4 linked regions of the Homo sapiens genome follow. The protein of the gene in region 2 purifies or fractionates together with the protein of the main gene of each other region. This does not show direct contact. Each region holds a gene or a part of one and is shown on either strand. Other genes may lie near its edges.

Region 1 (3,500 bases), on a different chromosome or scaffold from region 2:
AAATTGTCTTATGACCAATGATTATCATTCCTACTTGTATACATTCAGCTATTTCATGGAAGTTTGTTCCATTGTTCAGGTGCAATTAAAATTAAATGACTAACTTGCTGAGTTGAAACCAGTTTCTAATTTTGCACTCTGGAAATGGTAAACACGTAATTTGTGTCCTTTGGTAATAATACATTCTGTGATTTAACAACCAAGTAACTCTGTTAACTTTTTTCCCTTAAGAGAAAGACTTAGTTGCTTAAATATATTTTCGTATAATTTTATTTGAAGGTACATACACATATGTTGCTTTTTTTTTCCTTCTAGTTGTACAGACTACGCCTCCACATGATCTGGCAGCAACCCAAATCCCTCCCGCTCCACCTTCCCCTTCAATTCAGGGTCAGAGTGTGTTGAGTTATAGCCCTTCTCGTTCGCCCAGTACCAGTCCCAAGTTCACCACCAGCTGTATGACTGGTTACAGCCCTCAGCTGCAAGGTCTGTCCTCAGGTGGCAGTGGTTCTTATAGCCCTGGAGTGACCTACTCGCCCGTCAGTGGTTATAATAAGGTAATGACTCTCTTCTCTTGTCTAGTCACATTATTTTAGAATTGAGAGGTATACTAAAAATCATCTAATGAGTCAAAACTTATCAGTGAGCAAACTGAGAGTTGATTTGCCCAGAACACCCATTTAAAAACCGAGAATAGAACATAATATCTTAAACACAACATCTTAAAATGAAAGAGAAAAAATTAGCATTTACAGAGATAACAAACTTAGTGCACCATCTACGATCTTTCAGCTGTCTTTAAAACAAGTTGAAACAAGGATAATTTTTTACTTTAGTTGCTTTTACTCCTGTTTTCCCTCTTGCTTTCCTTCTTCATGTGAGGCCTTTGTATACCTTTTTAGAGTTTTAGTGTGGTTTATCATGTTGGAGTGTCTTCTAAGCTAAAAGCTGAGATTGTCACATAGTTTCTTTTTTTTTTCCAATGAGTACAAATGATTCTTGAATATGGACGCTTTCCATGGAATAGTAGGAACCTTCATTTCCACTCCCACAGTAATGTGAAATTTTGTTCTAATTTTTAGGATTAATAGAAACAGGATTGACAAATTGAAATTTTGACTCCTTCTTGAAGCATAAAACTATTAATATAAGGGGGCGTTGAAAGAAGAGTGGTCATTTCAGATGCTGTCGCTACTGTGTTCGACTAACATCTCTGTAGCTGCTAGTTAAAAGAGGAGTCTCTGGAGATGAAACTGACACATTGTCTGCCCTTATCCATTTACATATTTCTTTTTTTTTTTTTTTTTTTTTTTTTTTTGAGACAGAGTCTCGCTCTGTTGCCTAGACTGGAGTGCAGTGGCGTGATCTCAGCTCACTGCAAACTCCGCCTCCCGGGCTCATGCCATTCTCCTGCCTCAGCCTCCCGAGTAGCTGGGACTACAGGCGTCCACCACCGTGCCCGGCTAATTTTTTGTACTTTCAGTAGAGACGGGGTTTCGCCATGTTAGCCAGGATGGTCTCGATCTCCTGACCTTGCGATCTGCCCTCCTCGACCTCCCAAACATTTACACATTTCTTTGTAATGAAATTCCATACTACTGGTTATCCAATATTAAAATTAATTTTGGCAGGTAATAGAATTTTGAAAATTTTGTACAAGTTAAATTTTTATGAGAAAGTATATATGTAGTGAAAATTAATAACTCATAGGTAAATGTGACTTTTAAAAATAATTTTTCACAAGATGATACTATATGATCCTTATAGAAAATTGGAAAAGTAAAACAGAAGGAAAATTATTATAGTCCTGCCACACAAAAATAATCTGTTTAATGGCTATTTAATACTCATCTAATGGATATACCATAATTTACTCTTGAATGTTTAAGTCATTTTCATTTATAAAAAAACTTTTTAATGTATACTAAATAGCCCTGTACATAAAATTATTGATAAATTTGGGATGGGAGTGTCGATCCAAAAGAATTGTACCAATTTACATTGTCACAGAAATGTAGAAGAGTGTTTGTTTTACCACACTGTTGACCATCAAGTTAATTTTTTAAAAAAATAAATCTCTGCTAATAAGAAACATGACAATAGTCTATCGTAACTTTTAACATACATTTATTTCAAAGCCGCATAGCTAAATCAGGAAGTTCTCGTGCTTTACTCGCTTGTCTTTTGGGTCTGTATCCTCTGATTTTTTTTCTTGGGTTGCTGTTTAATTATAGAGTTTAATATATATATATATAGAGAGAGAGAAACTTTAAATGTTTAATAGTCCTATCTGTTTATCTCCTTGTGGTTTGCTCTGTTTTTAAATTTAGAAATTTTCTTACTTTCAGAATTGATTCCCCTCCCCACCATAATATAAGATGATAATTTTCTCATTTTTGTTTTTTGCTAAAATTGATAACTAGTTGTCCCAATATTATAAATTATTTTTACCTTGATTGACTTGGAGCCTCCTTTGAATTACATGTGATTTGTCTTTTTCGGGGTGATTCTGTTCACTTGCTGTGTTTTTAGTGCTGTGTGTAGCAGTTTCATTGTGGACTGACTGTTAGAAGAGTTAACAAAAAATGTTAAATACTATTGCATTTTTGCTTCAAAAACAGATAAATCATAGCTTATGTTCTATTTGTACAAAAGAAGTGACACCACCAAAATATAATTTTTATTTTTAAAGAAATAATTTTTTTCTTATGTTAACTCTCCCTTTGTACCCACTCTTTTCCAGTCATTTCTTCTGCCTTGTACATCTTTGTATTTATAAGTTAGAGGGAAAAAATAATGAGTTGAGTTTTTTTTACCTTAGTAATCTTTCTTTTTTTAAAATCTTAAAAGATATGTCAGGAAATTATCAAAAGAAAGTAAAGGTGACGGCTGGGCGCAGCGGGTCACGCCTGTAATCCCAGCACTTTGGGAGGCCGAGGCAGGCGGGTCACAAGGTCAGGAGATCAAGACCATCCTGGCTAACATGTTGAAACCCTGTCTCTACTAAACAAAATACAAAAAATTAGCCAGGTGTGGTGGCGGGCGCCTGTAGTCGCAGCTACTCGGGAGGCTGAGGCAGGAGAATGGCGTGAACCAGGAAGGCGGAGCTTTCAGTGAGCCGAGATGGCTCGCTGCACTCCAGCCTGGGCGACACAGCAAGACTCTGTCTCAAAAAAAAAATAAAAAAATTAAAAAGGTGACAAAGGCATATCAGGAAAGCATAAAAATAAGGTGGTAGTATTAACAATGAATAACTTTAGAGGAGGAAGAATTATATGAGACAAAAGGTCATTTTAAGTTGATGGAAGAAATAATAAAATAATAGTTAGATTCACAATCCCTGTATATTGAATAATACAGCATCATAAAATGTAAAACAAAAACCTTTAGAAACATGAAATCAATAAACACAATTGTATTGGAAGACTTTAGCATTATCAATGTCTGATAAAGTAGGCAACAAATAAGGACACAAAAGATTGGAACAGTAAAATTTAATA
Region 2 (3,500 bases):
ATTCCTTCACACCCCCCCATTCCCCAGAGAGGGGTCCAGGCCTGGGCAACAGATGGCCACTGTCTGGGGGCAGGAAGGGCAGGGGACTGCACGGGAAGGGTGGGGCAGCCACTCCAGCCCCTTCCTCGTGGCAGCTTCCAGAGGTGGGGGTGAGATGTGGGCTTCATTCACCTCAGAGCCTGGCTCAGGCTGGCTCAGGGAAGACAGGAGAGGAAGGTGGGTTAGGTGTGAGCATGTGTGTGCAAGAGTGTGTGCATGAAGGTGCATGTGTGCCCACCAGAGGTGTGAGCGTGGTGCACATCTGTCTCCCCCTCCCGCCTGGTCCCACTGGACTGGGCCACCGCCACCTTCCCTGTGGCCAGCTCCAGGCCTGGCCCACCATGGCCGCTGCCCGAGAGAGTGAGTGAGCGAAGAAGGAAGGGTGGGCCCCTAACTGCCCCCCACTGAACCCAAGTCCCCACTCAGGGTGGGGCAGCCCAGCCCAGGCTAGGAGCCCAGGGGCTCTCAGCCCACCGAATCTCACTCCTGTGCTTTAACTGGGCGGGGCACCCTCAGCCTTGAGGTGAAACTCCCGTGACCCTCTGCGACTTGCCATGTCCCTAGGGCCAGACACCCACCCCCTAACAGCCAGATTCCCTGAACCAAAGCCAGGCCCCCTCTGGTCTGACCAGAGAGAAGTGGAATTGGATCCAAGACCCAAGATGCTATGTCGCTTGAGAGAGCTCAGTCCCTCGGATTTTGTCCCTAGGAATCCTGATGGGCAGGCTGGACCCTCCACTGCCACCACACCAGCTCCCGAGGCGGTCATTCGGTCCTGGCTGCACCCCTTTTTCCATTCATTCATCTGTTCACTCGCTCTGCCCTACACGAAGCCCCACCTCTGCGACCACTCAGAACCAGCCAGGTGTCCCCCAACACACCCTCCAGAGCAGCCCCGGGCACCCTCCTCACTCCCCTGAGCTCTCCTCTCCTCCTCAGCCCCTGGCTGACCTCCCCCAGGAAAAGCCCCTCCTGGTTCCAGCACCCGGCAGCATTTTTGAGGACATTTTCCCGAGCAGCATTTCCCAGGCGTCACGGGGGGTGGAGGGGTGGGGGGCAGCAGGAATGGTTCAAGAAGAGCAATTTGCTTCTGGAGATAAATGCCGGCTCCTCACGGAAGGCATTCCCTCCTTTCTTTTCTCTCTTCCTCTCTCGCTCATGCTTTTTTTTTTTTTTTTTTTTTTTTTTTTTTACAGTTTGCTAAATCTGTTGTAATCTGGTGCCAACGATTAATTCAGGCAGAAGGAGGGAAAGGGGCGTGAAAAAAATACTGCCACAGAGCTGCCTCTGGAGAGTGACGCGGGCAGGAATGGCCAGGACTAGCGCCCCGTGACCCCAGTTTTAATCCCAGTTTTAATTAAGTATAAGCCATCCCCAACCAGCCCGGCCACTGCCTCCCTGCCAGCCAGACAATAGACCCCGTCTGCCCATGAGGATGCCCTTTGACCCCTTGAAGCAGAGCCTGCCACACCTGGGGCCTGGCCGGACGTCGGATGCCTGGGTCCTGCGGTCTGCCTGGGAGGCAGTGTCCCCTAGTGGCTAGCTGAGCCCCATACAGCCGGGTCCGGGGCCCTCCAGGACACAGCCCCTTCACTCCCTTCTCCCTCTGCCTGCACCCCAGCCCACTTCCCTGCACCGGGAACATTCAGGGCTGGGGAGGGTTTCTGCGGACTCTCCTTCATCACTAATAGCTCTCGGTCCACCCAGGGCTACCGCCCCCGTCATAAACAAGCCCACATTTGTCTCACAGCCCATCAGATGCTGGGGCAACCTGTCTACGCAGGTGAACACACAGCTCTCGGGAAAAGGGGACCTGGCATCCCGGGCCTAGGAAGCCCACTCTTCCAGAGGCCCATCTGCAAGGACAGGCAGAGGGTCCCTGAGGCAGACCCAGGAATCCTGAGAGAGCTGGGGATGGATGGGCCACAGAGACCCAGGGAGACAGCCCACCAGCCCCAGCCCTGGCCGGGTGCCTTGAGCCCCTCTGCCCTCCTGCCGGGGGTCTCCATGCAGCCCTCTCCATCCATCCTGTCCTCCAGGCCCTTGTTTCTGTCCCTGCCCTTCCCTGGCTCCAGCTCACTCTTCATGTCTTAAGCACCCCCTTCCCTGGGAAGTCCCCCTCAATCCCACCCCTCAGCAGGCCCCTCTGTTACTTGACCTCACCACTTTGCGCCTTCAGAGCCAAGGCTTCACGGGGAAGAGGTAGATCTGACTAATGTCTGACACCACATCTGACTGGAAGCGCCCTGAGGGCAAGACACCCACTGCTTTTGTTCCCCACTTTTGTCCCAGAGCCCAGCACTGTGCCTGGCAATAACTAATGCTCAATGATTATCTCAAGAATGAATGAATGAATGAATGAATGAGCAGGAAAGGAGGGAAGGAGTGAGGGAAGGGAAAACAGAAGAGCCAGGGAGCCAGGCGTGCCAGAGGAGCACTGGTGGGCCAGCCCATTTATCCTCCATGGCTTCAGCCCCAAACTCCCACCCATCCTCCTCCCTGTCCTCTCCCCCACCCTCACTAGCCACCAGCTCTGCAGGTTGTCATTTTAAAACCCAGGGCTGCAGGAATCCAGCAAACAACCTCCACAAAGCAAGGAGAGGCCCCCAAACCCTGACATCATCTGCAGAGCCGCTGGCCCCGGGGAGCGGCAGTGCTCTGGGGGCCTCGAGCGATGGTAAACAGGCAAACACAGGCCTGCACAAACACAGCCTGCTCCATGGAACCCTCTTGGTGTCTCCAGCTGCTGCCAGAGAACTCCAGGCAGGCTGTCCGGGGGGAGGAGGGCAAAACAGGGGTGCTGTCCTTTTCCCGTCTCCTCCCGGCCATCCAGTCTGCCCCACACCACAGCCCTGGCCCTCTCAGGGTGAGTGTCCCATGGCAGAGGACAGAATGCAGCTGCCTCGTGGGCCAGCCAGAGCCTGAACTTTGTCTCCGGCAGAACAACACAGGTTCTGAGGAGGGACCCCCCGCTACCACCCGACCTCAAACACACTTGGAAGGCAGTACACCGGGGGCAGCAGCCAGGGCCTGGGGCCTGGGCCTCCCAGAGGCTGGCGCTCTCCTCTGCCAGTGAGCAGGGAAAGCTACCCCCGGGGCAGTCCCCACCCACCCCACTATAGGCAGTTAGCACCCTCGCCACACCCACGCCCCTTCTTGTCCACCCACGCTCGCTCACCCACATGCCTCACGCACCCCATCCTATAAGGGGCCTCAGCAAAAGCCCTCCAGCTCCCCCTTGCTCTGGGGCATTTCCCACTGCCCCTTGGGCCAGGTACCAGAGTGGATGGCCCCTGCCTGCAGGGGATGAGGGCCACCTCAGTCCTCCCTGCCACCCCAAGGCCTGAAGAAGCTGAAAGCCCTTGGCCCACAGTGAACGAGGGGTGTAGACTAGGCAAGGGCCCCACATTGCTAGGCATGAACTCTGCTAGAAACCTCATACGCATCCTCTCAACGTGGGT
Region 3 (3,500 bases), on a different chromosome or scaffold from region 2:
GCACATAGGGATGCTAATAAATGGTGAATATCAGTATTATCATTTTTAGTTCAACAAATAGTTATTGAGTACTTGCTCCATACAGGGACTTTATATGCATTACTTTTCACTCTCACAACAAGTTTGCAAAGTAGATATTCTCTTTATTTTATAGATGAGGAAACTGGAGTTTAAAGAGATTAAAAGACTTACCTAAGCTAAACAACTAATATGTACAGTACTATACTTATATTGGCAATTTCACACCAAAACAAGTACCTGGTCTGTTTTACTAGAACTGGAGCATCGTAAAGCCTTAATCTTACATATCTTTGACTTGACCTTTTTATGCCAGCCATATGATTCTCCCATCTCTAGATATTTTTTTTTTTTTTTTGAGATGGAGTGAGTTTTGTTCTTGTTGCCCAGGCTGGAATGCAACAGCATGATCTTGGCTCACTGCAACCTCTGCTTCCTGAGATAAAGCGATTCTCCTGCTTCAACCTCCCAAGTAGCTGTGACTACAGGCACCTGCCACCACATCTGGCTGATTTTTTTTTTTTTTTTTTTTTTGAGATGGAGTTTCGCTCTTTCACCCAGGCTGGAGTGCAGTGGCGCGATCTCGGCTCACTGCAACCTCCACCATCAAGCGATTCTCCTGCCTCAGCCACCACGCCTGGTGAATTTTTGTATTTTTAGTAGAGACGGGGTTTCACCATGTTGGCCAGGCTGGTCTTGGACTCCTGACCTCGTGATCCGCCCGCCTCCGCCTCCCAAAGTGCTGGGATTACAGGCGTGAGCCACCAGGCCCGGCCTGATTTTTGTATTATTAGTAGAGATGAAGTTTCACCATGTTGGCCAGGCCGGTCTTGAACTCCTGGCCTCAGGTGATCCGCTGGCCTCAGCCTCCCTAAGTACTGGGATTACAGGCGTGAGCCACTGAGCCCAGCCCCATCTCTAGATTTTTACTGAGACATAATTCACATACCATGCAAATCACATATTTAAAGTGTATAATCCAATGGTTTTCAGTGTATTTACATGTACTAAACTGATACAATCATCATCACAATCTAATTATACAAGAATTTTGTCACATCCCTCCAAAAAGAACCCAATATCTATTGAACAGCTGTAGATGTTTAAATAATAGTTGTCCAGGGGCTAGTGCTTTAGGAAGGTTTTTCCCTTAGATGACTGAAATACCATTTTATGTCTTCCTACAGTGATCTTTTAGAGCTATGCTATGTAATACTTTAAGGCTGGGAGACCTTACCATGTTTTTTAAAAAAATTGGGCCTGGCCCAATAAAGCTGGATTCTGGTTCTGCAAATACCAGAATAACACTTTACTTCACAAATATGCTAAATGATGGATTGGTAGGTTCCAGAGTACTGCTTTTCTTTTTTCTTTCTTTCTTTTTGTTTTTGAGGTGGAGTCTCGCTCTGTCGCCCAGGCTGGAGTGCAGTGGTGTGATCTGGGCTCACTGAAACTTCCACATCCTGGGTTCACTGATTCTCCCTCACTGATGCTTCCGCCTCAGCCTCTAGAGTAGCTGGGACTACAGGTATGCGCCACCATGCCCAGCTAATGTTTGCATTTTTAGTAGAGACGGGGTTTCACCATATTGGCCAGGCTGGTCTCAAACTCCTGATCTTATGATCCACCCACCTCAGCCTCCCAAAGCTGTGGTTTTCAAATTTGTCTGCACATTAGGATCAAGTGGGGACCTTCAAAAAATGATGCCTATGTCCCACCCCCAGAGACTGTGCTTTCATTTGTCGGGGTGTGGCCTGGGTTTCAGAATTTTTAAAAGGTCTCTAGGTGATTTTAATGTGCAACCAAGTTTGAAAACATTGTTCTAGGGAAAATGCCAGTTGCTTTCCAGGCTGACCAGAAGAGCGGCAGTTATTTCTTGCTGGCTTTCATGCTTTCTTAGCCTTTTCATATGTGCTTCTACTTTGTCATTTTTGGTTGTTCTCATATGTGTATTTCTAAGGTGTGTTTGAGATTTTAGGTGAGTGAGGAACTAATAAAAATAATTATAGTAATAGCTGATAATTTTTTTTTTTGAGACAGGGTCTCACTCTATTGCCATGGTTGAAGTGTAGTGGTGCAATCACAGCTGACTGTAGCTTCAACCTCCCAGGCTCAAGCAATTCTCCCACTTCAGCCTCCCAAGTAGCTGGTACCACAGGTGCATGCCAACACACCCAGCTAATGAAAACACATTTTTTTTTTTTTTTGTAGAGACAGGATCTCACTATGTCGCTCAGGCTGGTCTTGAACTGCTGGCCTCAAGCAATCCGCCTGCCTCAGCCTCCCAAAATGCTAGGAGCTGGCTAATAATTGTTTAACAGTTATGATATGCCAGGCACCATGCTAAACACTTTGCATACATTATATCATGCATGAATCTTATAAAACACTTATTATTCCCTTTTTGCATATGAGGAAGAGGCTTAGAAAGGAGATTGAGTAACTTGGCCACAGACTCCTAGTTGGTAAATGGTAGAACCTCATTTGACTAACTGCCAAATCCAAGAGTTGATAGCAATGATGCACTGAGTAACAAAATAACAGTGTTTCTCCTACAGTTGAGAGTATGTATAGGGTTCTCTCCAGGGCAAAGGCCTTGCAGTCACCTTGCATGGATACCATGCCTTGGATAGTATCCTTGCATACCACCCTGAATTAATGAATGCTTTACCTGTCTAAGGATATGAATTTATCTACCTTTCACATTGTGCATATACTTAAGAAAAATAAGGCTGGAAGGACAGGGACTAACACTGGAGGCACCAAAAAGACTCTCCTTTTGTAGTTTCTGGGATTGTTGTTGTTGTTGTTGTTATTGTTAAAGAGACATGGTTTCCCTATATTGCCTAGGCTGGAGTGCAGTGGCTATTCACAGATGTCATCCCACTACTGGATAGCACAGCAGTTTTGACCTTCTCCACTTCCAACCTGGGCCAGTTCACCCCTCTTTAGGCAACCTGATGGTCCTGCCCTCCCAAGAGGTCACTGTATTCATGCTGAACTTAGTGCAGACAGTGGATTGATCAATTGATCAGCATAGTGCACCACAGCCCAGAACTCCTGGGCTCAAGCAATCCTCCCACCTCAGGCACTGAGCAGCAAGAACTACAGGTGCACACCACTGAGTCTGGCTACTTTATGTTTTCTTGGGTTGCCTAGATTTATTTTTGAAATAAATTATTACTTTTATAATTAAAAATGGTTATCTTTGGGTTTGGAGATTATAGTTTTAATTTTTTAAATACTTTTCTGTATTTTCTGAATTTTCTAGCAAACATGCATTACTGTTATAAGGTAAAAATATTTTGTAAGCAGGGTGCACATCATTTCCAGTAGAATGCTTGAAATAAAATTTAAAGGATGCCTGGAATTTCATTTCATTCATAAAAAATTATCTGAGAATGAGGTACACGATCTGTATAAACAAAGGAAAATTATCAAAAAGCTATTAGTTTTAATACAAATGTCACAATCACTTGAAA
Region 4 (3,500 bases), on a different chromosome or scaffold from region 2:
AGTAGAGATGGGGTTTCACCTGTTGGCCAGGCTGGTCTCCAACTCCTGACCTCAAGTGATCCACCCGCCTCACCCTCCCAAGGTGCTGGGATTACAGGCGTGAGCCACTGTGCCTGGCCTATTTATTTATTTTATTTTTGAGACAGCGGGAGTATCTCCCAAGCTGGAGTACAATGGCGTGATCTTGGCTCACTGCAACCTCCACCTCCCGGGTTCAAGCAAGTCTTATGCGTCAGCCTCCTGAGTAGCTGGGATTATAGGCATGCGTGACCATGCCTGGCTAACTTTTGTATTTTTTAGTAGAGATGGGGTTTCACCATTTTGACCAGACTGGTCTCGAACTCCTGATCTCAAGTGATCTTCCTGCCTCGGCCTCCCAAATTGCTGGGATTACAGGCATGAGCCACTGCACCCAGCCTGAGCGCTCTTAGACCATAATTACTCAGCTGCCTCTGTTAACACACCACGTGTGTGAATCTAGGTATCTGTATTCCTGAATGAACACCAATGAGCGGAGCCCAGATCCCGAGATAACACATTTTAAACCTCTGCCAAAGCAGCCTCTCTTAACCCCCTTCCCTAGCTGTGGCTGAGAGAGGCCTTGGGACTGATACCCCAGCTCAGATCTTCTCCCCGCTGGGCAGGGAAAGCCAGTCTGGCCGGCACCCACCATCCTGCGTGCAGGCCCCCAGCAGGTTGATGATATTCTTATGCTTCCCGATCATCTTCATCATCTCCATTTCTGAGATCAGGTCTGACAAGTCTTTCTCTGTTGCGTCCGCTTTAAAGAACACGTTGAGACTCATTTACTTGGGAAGGGAGGAGGGCAGGATAAAGGCTAAGGGAGTGGGGTATGTGTCGAGGGGCTGCTTTTCCCTGGGACTTGATTCTCTCCTCCCCACTTCATCCAAACTTGTTTTCTCTTCCCTCTCATGGGAGCCGTTGTTGCAATAGGTGGTAGTGAGTGGGCAGGGATGTGGTGAGGAAAGCCTGCAAGCGATGGATCCAGGATAAACACCTGACCACAGCCCAGGTTGACGCCAAGGAACAGAGTGACGTCATAGAACAATCTCAAGGTGCAGAACACCCCCTCCACTCCCAGGTAACCCCAAGCAGGCAGCGGAGCAGGTGTGGGCAGCAAAGGCACCAGAGAAGCTGTTCTGCTGGGCCCGAGGCCTGCTGTTTGCTTGGAATGGGACAAGATTTTCTTTGCAAGGACAGAAGCATCACTTACACTTCAACATCTTCACAGCCACTTTGGTCACACGGTTGGGTTTGTCCTTGTCCAGCCCGATAGCCTCTGCCAACACCACCTGCCCAAAGCAGCCCTCTCCCAGGGGTTTGCCTAAGACCAGTCTTTCGGGGGAAACAGAGAGTGGCATAAGTTGGGGCTGGTGAAGTTCAAACCTTGAGAGGCACCCCATCTCCACCTCTCTGTATTTCACCCAACTGCGAGCAGAAAGTGGAATGAATGTTTCTGCAGGCATTTCATGAACCTTCACCGCCCAGAAGGTGTTAGTATACACACCTTCCACCACTAGAATAGCAAGCAAGGAATGCCTTCAAAAAGTTGGGAGTCAAAGTATTATTACCTGTCCCGAGGCAGCTCCCAGCGAGGGTCTTCGGGAAGCTCATACTCAGAGACCCCTGCTAGCATGGGAGTCCCACTGGAGGAGAGCCGTGATGGCCGAACCAGAAGAACCCCAGAGTTCATGGATGCACTGGAGTCAGCAGACACCTGCAAGGAAGAGTGGGGTCACCCTAGAGCAAGGAGGGGGGACGGGGTGACTCCTTCCCATTCTTAGTCAGGGCTTCCCAACAATGGCAGAGGCACATGTCTGTGTATCTGATGTTCTTTCCTCAACACAGAGTGGTCCAAAGACCATGGTAGGCCAGGAGGCCCAACTTCTAGGACTGACCTATTTCTGCCACAAGCTGGCCTTTCTGGACTTCACTCACCTTTAAAATAAGCAGACCAAATGCACCTCTTCCAGCTTGACATTTTATAACTGATCATTGCAGTAACAACTCTGTTCTCCTGACTCTTTGCAAATACTTTGCCTTAGCTTATGGATTCCTAACTCCCAAAGCACCTTCCAGAATGAGCACAGGCTTCTGAGGGAACGGTCATTCTTGCACACACCTGTGCCATCTGTACCATTTCCTCCCGTGGGGAAGGGTGGGCACACAGGGGACAAGGGTATGGTATGGCTGAGATGGTTTGGCTGTGTCCCCACCCAAATCTCATCTTGAATTCCCACGTGTTATGGGAGGGACCTGGTAGGAGGTCATTGACTCATGGGGGCAGGTCTTCCCTGTGCTGTTCTTGTGATAGTGAATAAATCTCACGAGATCTGATGATTTTATAAAGGGGAGTTTCCCTGTACAAGCTCTCTTCTCGTCTGCCGCCATGTGAGACGTGCCTTTTGCCTTCTGCAATTGTGAGGCCTCCCCAGCCACGTGGAACTGTGAGTCCATTAAACCTCTTTCTTTTGTAAATTGCCCGGTCTTGGGTATGTCTTTCTCAGCAGTGTGAAAATGGACTAATACAAACAGTTCTCTTCTCTACCCTGCATCTCTGCACTTCTAAGCAGCCCTTGGGGACAGTTCAAATTCATGCTATTGGCTGCACATTCTGTCCAAATAGGACTTCCTCCCAATCCATGTCCCAGGAGTCCGGAGGACTTGCAGTGTGATATGGAGGGTGCAGGAAATTCACGGGCTACACTAGCTTGAAACAGACTCTAGAGCACTTAGTTCATGATATTCCACTGTGCCTTGCCCAGAAGCCAGAAAATAAGGCCCAAAGCTATAAATTAGGGACAATGGAGAGGGCAGGGCATTAGAGGCCCAGAGAGAGAGGTGGTGCTGAGTGTGCAAATCCCCCATCTACTTTCTGTTACCTGTCTGCGCAGAGGGATGCTCTTGGCCAGCTTGTGCACAGCCATCTGGCTGTGGAAGTCACTCTTCTTGGTACCACTCTTCATCTTGTAGACGATGACCGACCCCACCATGCAGGAGATGAGGAAGGCCCCTGTGCAATAGATGATGATCTCCAGGTACAGGGGCGAGGTCATCACTGCCGGCCTCTCTTCCAGGGCTGAGTCAGTGCGAACAGGGTGTTAGCAGGCTTGGAGGGCCCCGTCCATGCGAGGTCCCGCTCCATTAGAAAAGCAACACCTGTCTCCTGTCCCCTGGGAACTTTTAGGGAGAAGAACCATGGCAAGTTCTAGCTAGGACTGGGATTGTGGCACTAGGAGGATCAGGCAACCCCCTGATTTTGGAGGCTGCCTTCAATGGACTTGAGCCATGGAAAAGGGATGGCCTAGAACCATCGTGCTACACAAGCCCCATCTTCATTAATTCCTGAGCCTCCTTGCTCAGCTGGACTGGAGAGGTACAGGCACCCAGGGATCCTGCAAGGGCCAGCTGAGAAGTCACTTCTATGTGCCTTTCTTGGTCTCCTCAGGGAGCCATGGCCCTTCTCTGCAAAGCCTCAG

The links. Proteins that work in one complex are often made in the same cells at the same time.
Region 1: the proteins of FLRT1 (region 2) and TMEM209 purify together in Homo sapiens (affinity purification with mass spectrometry; one large-scale study listed by BioGRID and IntAct). This does not show direct contact.
Region 3: the proteins of FLRT1 (region 2) and PCDHGC3 purify together in Homo sapiens (affinity purification with mass spectrometry; 2 studies listed by BioGRID and IntAct, with this or other methods). This does not show direct contact.
Region 4: the proteins of FLRT1 (region 2) and FGFR1 purify together in Homo sapiens (affinity purification with western blotting; 2 studies listed by BioGRID and IntAct, with this or other methods). This does not show direct contact.

The regions. Positions count from the first base shown.
Region 1 is NC_000007.14:130,198,907-130,202,406, reverse strand, and holds part of TMEM209 (transmembrane protein 209), read left to right. Parts: intron 1-315; coding exon 316-557; intron 558-2,110; exon of another isoform or gene 2,111-2,563; intron 2,564-3,500. UniProt on the Homo sapiens protein: Nuclear envelope protein which in association with NUP205, may be involved in nuclear transport of various nuclear proteins in addition to MYC.
Region 2 is NC_000011.10:64,038,931-64,042,430, reverse strand, and holds part of FLRT1 (leucine-rich repeat transmembrane protein FLRT1), read right to left. Parts: intron 1-3,500.
Region 3 is NC_000005.10:141,478,966-141,482,465, reverse strand, and holds part of PCDHGC3 (protocadherin gamma-C3 isoform 1 precursor), read right to left. Parts: intron 1-3,500. UniProt on the Homo sapiens protein: Potential calcium-dependent cell-adhesion protein. May be involved in the establishment and maintenance of specific neuronal connections in the brain.
Region 4 is NC_000008.11:38,416,636-38,420,135, forward strand, and holds part of FGFR1 (fibroblast growth factor receptor 1 isoform 1 precursor), read right to left. Parts: intron 3,101-3,500; coding exon 2,898-3,100; intron 1,739-2,897; coding exon 1,593-1,738; intron 1,357-1,592; coding exon 1,235-1,356; intron 782-1,234; coding exon 671-781; intron 1-670. UniProt on the Homo sapiens protein: Tyrosine-protein kinase that acts as a cell-surface receptor for fibroblast growth factors and plays an essential role in the regulation of embryonic development, cell proliferation, differentiation and migration.